2 separate regions of the Homo sapiens genome follow, and region 1 is linked to region 2. Evidence: fine-mapped expression QTL. A gene starts in region 2. The other region holds a variant in brackets. All regions are shown on one strand. Distances are from middle to middle. Region 1 overlaps SP110 (SP110 nuclear body protein). Region 2 holds the start of SP110 (SP110 nuclear body protein).

The links.
Region 1: its variant is fine-mapped to the expression of SP110 in blood mononuclear cells (TOPMed, PIP above 0.99). The same link has a PIP of 0.9 or more in whole blood.

Annotation. Positions count from the first base shown.
Region 1 is chr2:230,168,396-230,173,395 of GRCh38, reverse strand. SP110 (SP110 nuclear body protein) reads left to right here. Exons shown (of 19, transcript NM_080424.4): 15 at 437-552; 16 at 1,222-1,330; 17 at 1,629-1,700; 18 at 2,635-2,775; 19 at 4,159-5,000. The coding sequence ends at 4,272. Among named protein-coding and RNA genes, the nearest start is that of SP110, 49 kb to the left of the region's middle. The variant C/G (reference allele first, on the strand shown) is at 2,113.
Region 2 is chr2:230,217,962-230,223,440 of GRCh38, reverse strand. SP110 (SP110 nuclear body protein) reads left to right here and starts at 3,457. Exons shown (of 19, transcript NM_080424.4): 1 at 3,457-3,567. It also overlaps a transcript of SP140 not described here. RefSeq lists a silencer at 3,345-3,531 and an enhancer at 3,249-3,728.

The DNA of each region.
Region 1 (5,000 bases), 50 kb after region 2:
AGTTAGGCAAGGCACCAGGAACAACAGTTCCCATACTCCTGCACCCAAATGCCAGTTATCATCATTTCTTACTTTGGTCAGTCAGATCTATTAATAGAGGCCTGGTGGGCTCAGCAAATGCGCCCAGAGTGGCCCAGCTCAAAGCACAAGCTTGCCAGCAGGCAGCAGCACAGCTCAAAACGCAGCAGAACCTGTTGGCAAGCCACAGCCAGAGAAGAAAAGTCCTGGTGGCGGCGGTCACCACCCAGACTCTCTGCTTGTTGTGCCATTTGTCTTGCAATTTCCCCCAGGGAGGTGGCATCAGCTCCCCCCATCAAAAATTGGGTTTGGATATCCACTCTGGCACACACAAAAATGATGTGTTCTAGAACCCCACAGGGTCAGCATTCGTGGGTCTCCATGGTCCTAGCGGTGCCCACGTTATCTGCCCTTGCAGCGGAAAAACTCGGATGAATGCGAGGTGTGCTGTCAAGGGGGACAACTTCTCTGCTGCGGTACTTGTCCACGAGTCTTCCATGAGGACTGTCACATCCCCCCTGTGGAAGCCAAGAGGTGAGTGGGATGCAGCCCCGCCTCGGGCACACAGCACTCACCTCCAGATGGAAAGGGCAGGACCTGTGAGCGTCGGGGACGAGGGTGTGACGCAGAGCAGTCTGGTGCCAGAGACTCTGGGCCTCTCTGGGTCTCTGAGACTGCCAGTGAGCCTCTTGGCCCCACACTGCTTCTGCCCCTGGAAGTGCCCTTTCCTAGTATGCTATTCCCTGGACAGCAGGGACTCCTGTCCAAAAGGAGGAGGGGACGGGAAAAGCCAGCTTATGTTCTGTGCCTGTTGAGGAAAGACAGGAAGCACGGCTTGTCACACATTTCACCATAGTCTCACCTGGCTGATGGAGGCCTGAGGTCCCTGCAGGTGAAAGCCCAGATTCTGACACTCAAGCCTGGCAGGCAGGGTTCCTTTGTGCTCCCAGCAGCTCAGACAGGGAAAAGAGAGCCCACACTTAACAGTGACACCACCTTCCTCAGGCTGCCCGCCTGCCGCTACCACTGATGCGAGGGAAGGGCCAATGCTGGAGACCCCATGTGGGGATCTTGGACACTCTGGGAGGTGTCCCACCCTCATGGCTGAGCCCATCCTTCCTGAGGGAAGACAGTGGCAGCCACAGGAATGGTGGCCATTTCCAGGGGCTTTGCCCTCTGCTCACCTTGTGTCCAACCTCTCAGGATGCTGTGGAGTTGCACCTTCTGCAGGATGAAGAGGTCTTCAGGAAGCCAACAGTGCCATCATGTATCTAAGACCCTGGAGAGGCAGATGCAGCCTCAGGACCAGCTGGTGAGTTGGATGCAAACCCCAAACCTATACTTTTCCCTTCTCACACGAGAAGCACAAACAGGCACAGGGTCAGGGCAATGTACCAAAGGGAGCCTTCAATGTCTCCCTTTAAAGGATGACGATTTAATGCCCAAACTCAGAGTCTAAACAAAATCCCACACACCCTGTGCGCCTTGGGAAGCATGGCTGGAATGCTGACTGGGCTTGGCTGCCCCATCCGTGTGCATGTCTAGACACTCGCCTGGCTTCACTGTTTCTAAGCTGCATTTCACTTTCAAGCCCTCTTCACATTTTACAGAAATGTGAGTTCCTCCTCTTGAAGGCCTACTGTCATCCACAAAGCTCCTTTTTTACGGGCATCCCATTTAATGTAAGTCACATTTTACGGTTCTCTTGCATAAAATGCATTTGGAGAAATTTGGGGGCTGATCTGGCAGGTGCTGCAGTTTGCTCAGGAAGCTGGAGAACAGAAGAGAAGGGCAGCGTGGCAGCAGTGGAGCGGGGCAGCAGGGATTTTGCTGCACACTCTGGAGAGGGACTACCTGGTTCAAACTCCACCCCACTGCTCACGGGCTCTGGGATACCGGGCAAGTTGCTTCTCCTCCTGTGTATCTGTTTCATCTTCTCTTTAGGAAGAATGTCTTTCCTACTAGAGATTAAGAGTCACAGATGCCAGCTGGGCTCAGCGGCTCACGCCTGTAATCCCAGCACTTTGGGAGGCCAAGGCGGGCAGATCACTTGAAGTCAGGAGTTTGAGACCAGCTTGGCCAACATGGCAAAAC[C/G]CCATCTCTACTAAAAATACAAAATTAGCCAGGCATGGTGGCAGGCACCTCTAATCCCAGCTACTCAGGAGGCTGAGGCAGGAGAATCGCTTGAACCCAGGAAGCAGAGGTTGCGGTGAGCCAAGATCGCACCACTGCACTCCAGCCTGGGTGACAAAGCAAGACTCCATCTCAAAAGAAAAAAAAGAGTCATAGATGCCAAACTGTGTGGGTTCCCATCTCAGCTCTACCACTTTCTTGCTGAGACATCTTGGGTAGGTTCCTTGACCTCTCCATCCCTCGGTTTCCTCATCTATGAAATGGGCATTATTATTTATGGTACCCATAAATGTGGAGATTACATATTCATATACTTGGCTTAGAATTTAGTTTATCTAGTGCCTAGAACAATAGCTGGCTTAAAGAGGTCAAATGGTATTATCATTATGACCCTGGAAATGAAGGCTTGGATTGTATTTAAGTTGGATCCATTCCAGTGATGACAGCTGTGCTAACGTCACCTCTGGTGGCTTTGTCCCCAAGATTCGAGATTACGGTGAGCCCTTTCAGGAAGCAATGTGGTTGGACCTGGTTAAGGAAAGGCTGATTACGGAAATGTACACGGTGGCATGGTTTGTGCGAGACATGCGCCTGATGTTTCGCAACCATAAAACATTTTACAAGGTAAAGAGCATTTCCTGCTTCCTTTTTGCGTCTTTTCTACTTTCCCCTAATTTCTGGGACAGCAGAATTTTGCAAGTATTACACTCAGTTTCAGCCTGGGGAGAGCTCAAACAAGACAAGGATTACAGAAAAAAAACCACCTCGGCATTCCTGGAGGCAAGGAGTGAGTGGCAAAAAGAACAGCAAGCAGGACAGGGGAGGGATCTCTGGAACAGAAGCTGAAAAAAACCATGCTCTGTTCCCAGATCGGCAGCTCGCTCCCAACGAGAGCAGTAAATGGCATCCAGCCTCTTTGTTCAAACTGGAAGGAAAGGCAGTTTATGCCTACATTGTTCTTCCTGCCTCAGAAATATGAAAATAAATAAGTAAACAACATAAAATCAATTAAACTTCCTGGATAATCAGGCTTGCATATTTTTACACATAAATTTCTCATTGGACTCAAACATCTGGAATTGCCTTCAGATCCAATGTTGGTTTCATCCTCCTTTACTAGGGAGGGACAGCTGGTTGAGCTATCCTGCAATCCCAGACATTTGTAACTTTGGTTTTTCCTGATTTTTATCCTCACTTGTACAGATATTTCTTGGGAGGTACCTAAGGAAGATTTTCATCTCCACCCAGCTTCCTTCCCTTCTTCCATGCCAGGAGTTGGCATGTTCACAAACCACAGATTGTAAACTGGTACCCATTCATGGAGCTGCAGGGAGAAAGGGTTGACCAGAGAGCCACTCAGTGCCTGGCATATCCGTAGTCCTGGAGAACAGAGGGTCATCCTTCCTCAGCGAGTGGGCTTCCAAGAAATGCATTTACAAAAATTGTTAAGCTATTTTGCATCATGCTCAGATTTGCCATGATCAAAACTAACCCTTCAGTCTAAATCGCCTGTCAGGTGGAAATTAACAACCAGCTGGAGTCTCATGCTTTTCAACATTTTAGTAGCAGCATCTCCCCATCCATTCTGCCTTACTGCTGGGCTCCTAAAAAAATAAGAGTGAGGCTGGGCATGGTGACTCACATCTGTAATCCCAGCTTTTTGGGAGTCCGAGGTGAGGGAATCATCTGAGGCCAGGAGTTTGAGACCAGCCTGAGCAACATAGCAAGGCCTCCTCACCCCGATCTCTGAAAGAGAAAAAAATGTTTTAAAACTTTGGGCATAGTGGCATGTGCCTGTAGTTTCAGCTTCTCAGGAGCTGAGGTGGGAGGATCACATGAGCCCAGGAATTCAAGGCTGCAGTGAGCCATGACGGTGCCACTGCACCACAGCCTGGGTGACGGGGAAAGACCCTGACTCAAAAACAAAAACACAAAAAAAAGTATGAGTGATTTGATGGCTGTAATCCTTCATCCTTCAATGTGTTTGTTTGCTTTTTTCTCTTTCAGGCTTCTGACTTTGGCCAGGTAGGACTTGACTTAGAGGCAGAATTTGAAAAAGATCTCAAAGACGTGCTCGGTTTTCATGAAGCCAATGACGGCGGTTTCTGGACTCTTCCTTGACCCTGTTCTGTAAAGACTGAAGCATCCCCACCTCAGGATTCAGCTGATGGGACCCTGGCTTGGACTGTTGATTGCCAGTGAGTCTGGGATGTAATTGGCTGCCCTCAGGACCCAAACCCAGACACTTCATAGGATTATCACACCCTCCATCTTTATTCTTTCTTTTTACCTTTAAAAGTCTATATCTACACTAAAAAAAAAAAAAATTAATACTTCCTTAATACCATCAGATACCCCATCATAGTTCACATTCTCCCCACTGTCTCATAAGTCTTTTTAGAGTTGATTTGTTCAAATCAGGATCTAAACAAGTTCCACACACTGCATTTGGCTCTCCTGTCCCTATGTCTCTTTTAAGCTATAAATTGTCATGTATTTATTGAAGAACTCAGGGTTTTGGTCCTATTACATTTTTTGCAATCTGGAATTTTCTGGTTGCATTTTCTTAGTGGTATAGTCCTCTCTTCCTCTCATTTTTTGTAAGCTAGAAGTTAGATCTAGAAGCTTGCTTTAACTCAGGTTTTGAGGGGTTTGTTTTGATTTGGGGGTTTTGGGGCACATGCAGGCTTCACAGGGGAATTTAGTATTATTTTTTATGTTAAGGTTGGCAGCAGGTGCACGTGTTATCAGCCTGATCATCTATCACCTGATGGTTTTAGCAATACCTAAATCCGTGATATCATCAGAGGTTGCAAAATGATGAGATTCAGGTTTTTTTTTACATAATT
Region 2 (5,479 bases):
AAGAAAGTAGGCAGTCCAGGCAGGTTATATTGACTCACTTGCCCTTTGTCATAATATAGTTGAAAGATATCTGGATCACCTGGACATCCCATAGAATGTCAGACTGGGCTGGGCATGGTGGCTCATGCCTATAACCCCAGCACTTCGGGAGGCTGAGGCAGGCAGATCACGAGGTCAGGAGATCAAGACCATCCTGGCCAACATGGTGAAACCCCATCTCTACTAAAAATACAAAAATTAGCCAGGTATGGTGATGCGTGCCTGTAGTCCCAGCTACTCAGGAGGCTGAGGAAAGAGAATCACTTGAACCTGGGAGGCGGAGGTTGCAGTGAGCCAAGATTGCGCCACAGCACTCTAGCCTGGAGACAGACCGTGACTCTGTCTCAAAAAAAAAAAAAAAAGTCAGACTGATTGATGACATCATGCTGATCAGACAGGATGAGCAGGATCTTGGTGGCTAGCATACCTGCTAAAGAAGAATAAATTACTGACCCACAACAACAGAGATGAATCTCAAAAGCATGATGATGAGGAAAAGAAAGCCATACACCAAAAATGCATTCCATGTGCCTTCATTGATAAAAAAAAAAAAAAAAAAAACTTTAATACACACGAAACTAATCTGTGGTGATAGAAAGCAGATCAGTGGTTGCCTGGTGCTGGCCTTAAGGAGGGGATTGTTTGCAAAGGTCACAGGGAACTTTCTAGGGTAACAGAAATGGTCTGTATCTTTTTTTTTTTTTTTGAGACAGGGTCTCACTCTGTCACTGCTCACCAGAGACTGGACCTCCTGGGCTCAAGCAATTCTCCCACTTCTGTCTCCCTGATAGCGGGGACCACAGGTGTATGCCAACATGCCCAATTAATTTAAAAAAATGTATTTTTGTAGAGACGAGGTCTTGCTCTGTTGTCCAGGCTGGTCTCAAACACCTGGGCTCAAGCGATCCTCCTGCTTTGACCTCCCAGAATGCTGGGATTATAGGCACAAGCGACTCTCCAGGCCTAGAAATGGTCTACATCTTGACTGGTGTAGTAACTACATTTGGTAAAATGTACATTACAATGAATAAATTTTATACCTCAATAAAATGGAGCTAAAAAGAATTATGTATAATTTATCTCAGTACATAATCACTAGCATGTGAATTAACAGGTGACGTTTTCCCATTATTACCATGTTCTCAAGCATGCATTTTTTTTTTTTTTTTTTTGAGGCGGGATCTCACTCTGTTGCTCAGGCTGAACTGCTGTGGCGCAGTCTCAGCTCACTGCAACCTCCAGCTCCTGAGTTCAAGCGATTCTCATGCCTCAGCCTCCCGAGTAGCTCGGATTACAGGCATGTGCCACCACGCCCAGCTAATTTTTTTGTGTTTTTAGTAGAGACGGGATTTTGCCATGTTGGCAAGGCTGGTCTTGAATTCCTGGCCTCAAGTGATCTGCCTGCCTCAGCCTCCCAAAGTGCTAGCTAAGCTACAGGCCTGAGCCACTGTGCCCAGCCAAGCATATATGGCTTAGAATAAACATCTTTCATCCTCATTCGCAGCTGTCTTTTTTTCATGTAACAATTTTTGCCTGATTTGACATTGACTTTATTTTCCCACTCCTGCTTTACTTTTGTTTGTTTGTTTTGCATTTGCCTGGTGTATCTCTGAATAGATCTAAAGGAAGAAGTTCTTGCTGCCAGGATCCTCAGATGCCCATGAAGGGGCTTTCCAGGTGATGGGGAGGGGCTTCAGGTAAGTGACATGTGACATTTGCATAAAATAACCTTAATTCCTTTACCACCGCCATCCCCTGCATCACAGCGCTGTATGTTACTGCATGCTGAGGCATCAATGCACCCTCTCCTCAGCTGTTAGCATTGAATTTTTCCTGGCTGTGGCTTCCATGCCTCTGTTTCACCCACAGCCATTACCCGCAAGGCCGGGTCTGCTATTCTGTACATACTAGGGTGGGATATGCTGTTTGTGCCTGCATAGAAGGGCTTGCTCTTATGCAGTTAGCCTTGGTTTCAAAGCTTCTTAAACTTTAGATCCATGTCTCCCATCTTTTATCTGAGGAGTTTGTGGATGTCCTGGTAGGGGAACTTGTGGGTCAAATACATTTGAGAATTATTGATTTAATCAAAGTTACATAGAATTCTTTTTTTTTTTTTTTTTCGAGATGGAGTCTTGCTCTGTCACCCAGGCTGGAGTGCAGTGGTGCGATCTCGGCTCACTGCAACCTCCACCTCCTGGGTTCAAGCAATTCTCCTGCCTCAGCCTCCCAAGTAGCTGGGATTACAGGTTCCCGCCACCACATCTGGCTAATTTTTGTATTTTTAGTAGAGATGGGGTTTCACCATGTTGGCCAGGATGGTCTCAAACTCCTGACCTTGTGATCCACCCATCTCAGCCTCCCAAAGTGCTGGGATTACAGGCGTGAGCCACCGAGCCTGGCCCAAAGTTACACAGATTTCTATAGTGCAGTGGTGCAATCATAGCTCACCGCAGCCTTGAACTCCTGGGCTCAAGCAAGTCTCCAGCCTCAGCCTCCTCACTAACTAGGACTACAAGGTGCATGCCACCACACTCAGTTAATTTTTTATTTTTTTATTTTTTGTAGAGATGGGGTCTCACTATGTTGCCCAGACTGGTCTCAAACTCCTAGGCTCAAGCAATCCTCCCATCTTGGCCTCCTAAAGTCCTGGGATTATAGGCATGAGCCACTGTGCCTGGCCAATAGTTTAGGATTTTTCATAGGCCCCACATGTCAATGTACATTAGGGATCTTTAAAAGGGGCATGAGAAGGGGTGTCCCTGCCAGCCCTTGAGTTACTGCTCTCTGGAATCAGCAGGTCCCAGTTCTGCCTCAGACTCCTGGCTCCCAACTACCTGCCCAGCTCTCAGCCATTTTTCTGCCTGGAGGTCTGCCTGCCTCTGCACAATTCCAGTTCATGTGCAGGTTCCCTTTCATTTCAATTTCTTCCTGTAATAATCTTATCCTGACAAGTTCTAGGCATTTCTGGCACATTCTCTTTGTTTTTTTGTGTGTTGTTAGAGTTTGATAACACACTGGATAAATTCCAGTGAATTCATTCAGTTATGTAAACATCACCACAATCCAGTTTGAGAACATTTTCATCAACCTAAAATGTACAGAATGAGGACAAGTCATGGGAAAATAGATGTGGTTAGGGAAGCATTTGGACGCTGAGTTCCCAGTTCCTATTGCCGCTGGGGCTGTACCCTTATGCCTCCTCCTCCCATACCTCCCTCTCTGGGCTGATCCCAACTGGCAACACGCCCTCCCCCAAACCCCAACTGCCAAGACGTCCTGGGAGCCTCACAAGTGCCCATGAGGAGGTGGAGAGAGGCTGCAGGCACCGACCTGCCTTCAGCTTCCGGCTTGGCAAACTCCGAAAACTTTCACTTTTCTTTTCTCGGAAGCCCGGCCCCTTACTGCGTTTGTCAAAGCACAGACTTCCTGTTTTGCCTGCTAGCATCTCCCTGTAACTCTCCCAATCTTGAGGAGTGATCCCTGTCCCAGCCCCTGGAAAGGGGCAGGAACGACAAACTCAAAGTCCAGGTGAGTTTCTGTCTTTGCTGCTTTATTCTTCGCTCTTGGTGACTGCAGCTCTTAGAGTTAACTTCGCGGCAGCAGCTGCAGGGTGGAGTTCAACTATTTAAACTCTGAGGCTCTCTCAGAGCTCAGACATGTGGTACTTATTAGGAGACTGTTAAAAGGGGGCACATGGAGGGAACACTGACACCTCTTTTTTTCGCCAGAGTCCAGCCTGTTATTGTGAATGGAGCCGAGATTTGCCCTCTACCCTCACCTAAGCTCTGATCCTTCAGTGCCCGCAATAGGCGGCTCATCTGTTATCCATTGTGTAAATGACTAGAGGTACTTGGGAAGCTGGTGGAAAAGAAAAAAATGAGAGTACATTTAATTTCGTCTCTAGTGTATCATGAACTTTTTATATATTTTCTCTAAATACATGATTATTTCCTTGAAATAAATTATTAGAAGTGGAAATTCAAAGGAGCACATGTTTTAGGACATTTGACACTGATTACTAAATCAGCCTTCAGAACATTTGGACCTGTTGACCTTCCCACTCACAGTGTCTGAGATTATTACTATTATTTTCTATCTTGGCCAATTTGATAGACAAATATGTTATCAAATTGTCTTCATTTACACTTTTTTTGGTTGTTTGTTGTTGTTGTTTTCTGAGACGGAGTCTCGCTCTGTCACCCAGGCTGGAGTGCAATGGCACCATCTCAGATCACTGCAACCTCCACCTCCCAGGTTCAAGCGATTCTCCTGCCTCAGCCTCCTGAGTAACTGGGACTACAGATGTGCACCACCACGCCCAGCTAATTTTTGTATTTTTAGTAGAGACAGGGTTTCACCATGTTGGCCAGGCTGGTCTCGAACTCCTGACCTCAGCTGATCCGCCCACCTCAACCTCCCAAAGTGCTGGGATTACAGGCATGAGCCACCATGCCTGGCCTTCTTTATGCTTTCTACTAGCTAGTTAACATGCTTATCGTATTATTCATTGCACATTTGGCTTATTCTTTTATCACTCTCTGTTCATGTATTTTGCTTTTTTATTTTCTAGTTGGATGTTTGTCTTTTGCTTATTCGTTTGCAAAATCTCTTTACATAATAAAAATCTGAACAGTCATATATGAGATGTAGTATCTTGCATAGAAAGAAACAGGGCTTTAGAGTCAGACAAGCTCTGCTTTGCCACTGAATACCTTGGGTGAGTTACTAAACCTCTCTGTGCCTCCCTTTCATCTTTGGGACTCATGACAGATGAAGAATGAGGAAGCTCTAGACTTCCTGTTCTGAGCGCTGCTGTATAATGAATTGTTCTAAAAGGAGCCTCCAAGACCCCTTCCTCTTCTTAGTATATGTTTACTCTGCCTTTCTCTGACTTTGCACTGATCTTTGCACTATCTCCTTCCCCTGTGCATATTGTGGATAGTAGATTTCTCTCCTATCTGTTCTCTATCTTCCAAGACTTCTTTACCACCACAGACTCTCAATGGCATCTTTTCTTGTTTTCCTATGCGATTGCGGATTATTCTTTTCATGAGTATTTTTTTCTGCCAAGTTAAAAAAATTGGGGAATGAGGAGAAAGAGACTAGGGTGCTTAATCTGCCACTGGGATTAAATCCCTGTAAACAGTTGTTAATTACGATTTACTTTTCTGTTCAACACAAAATGAAGTTGGAAAAGTGGAATCCATGTTTGTTCTGTTTGTTAAAAACTGTCAAGTTGATTGAATGTTTTGTTAGTGCTTTTCCTTTTCTTGACAATTTGTCAAGAATGTCATTTGTAAACTTTCTTCCCATTATAACCTATTGATATCTCCTCACAGTCCATAAATGGCCAATCTTTAATACATGCTGCATGGGCATGGGAAAAGGCGCATGTCTGAGACATGAAATGGTTGCAGTGAACAAGTCAGTTAAGTCACTT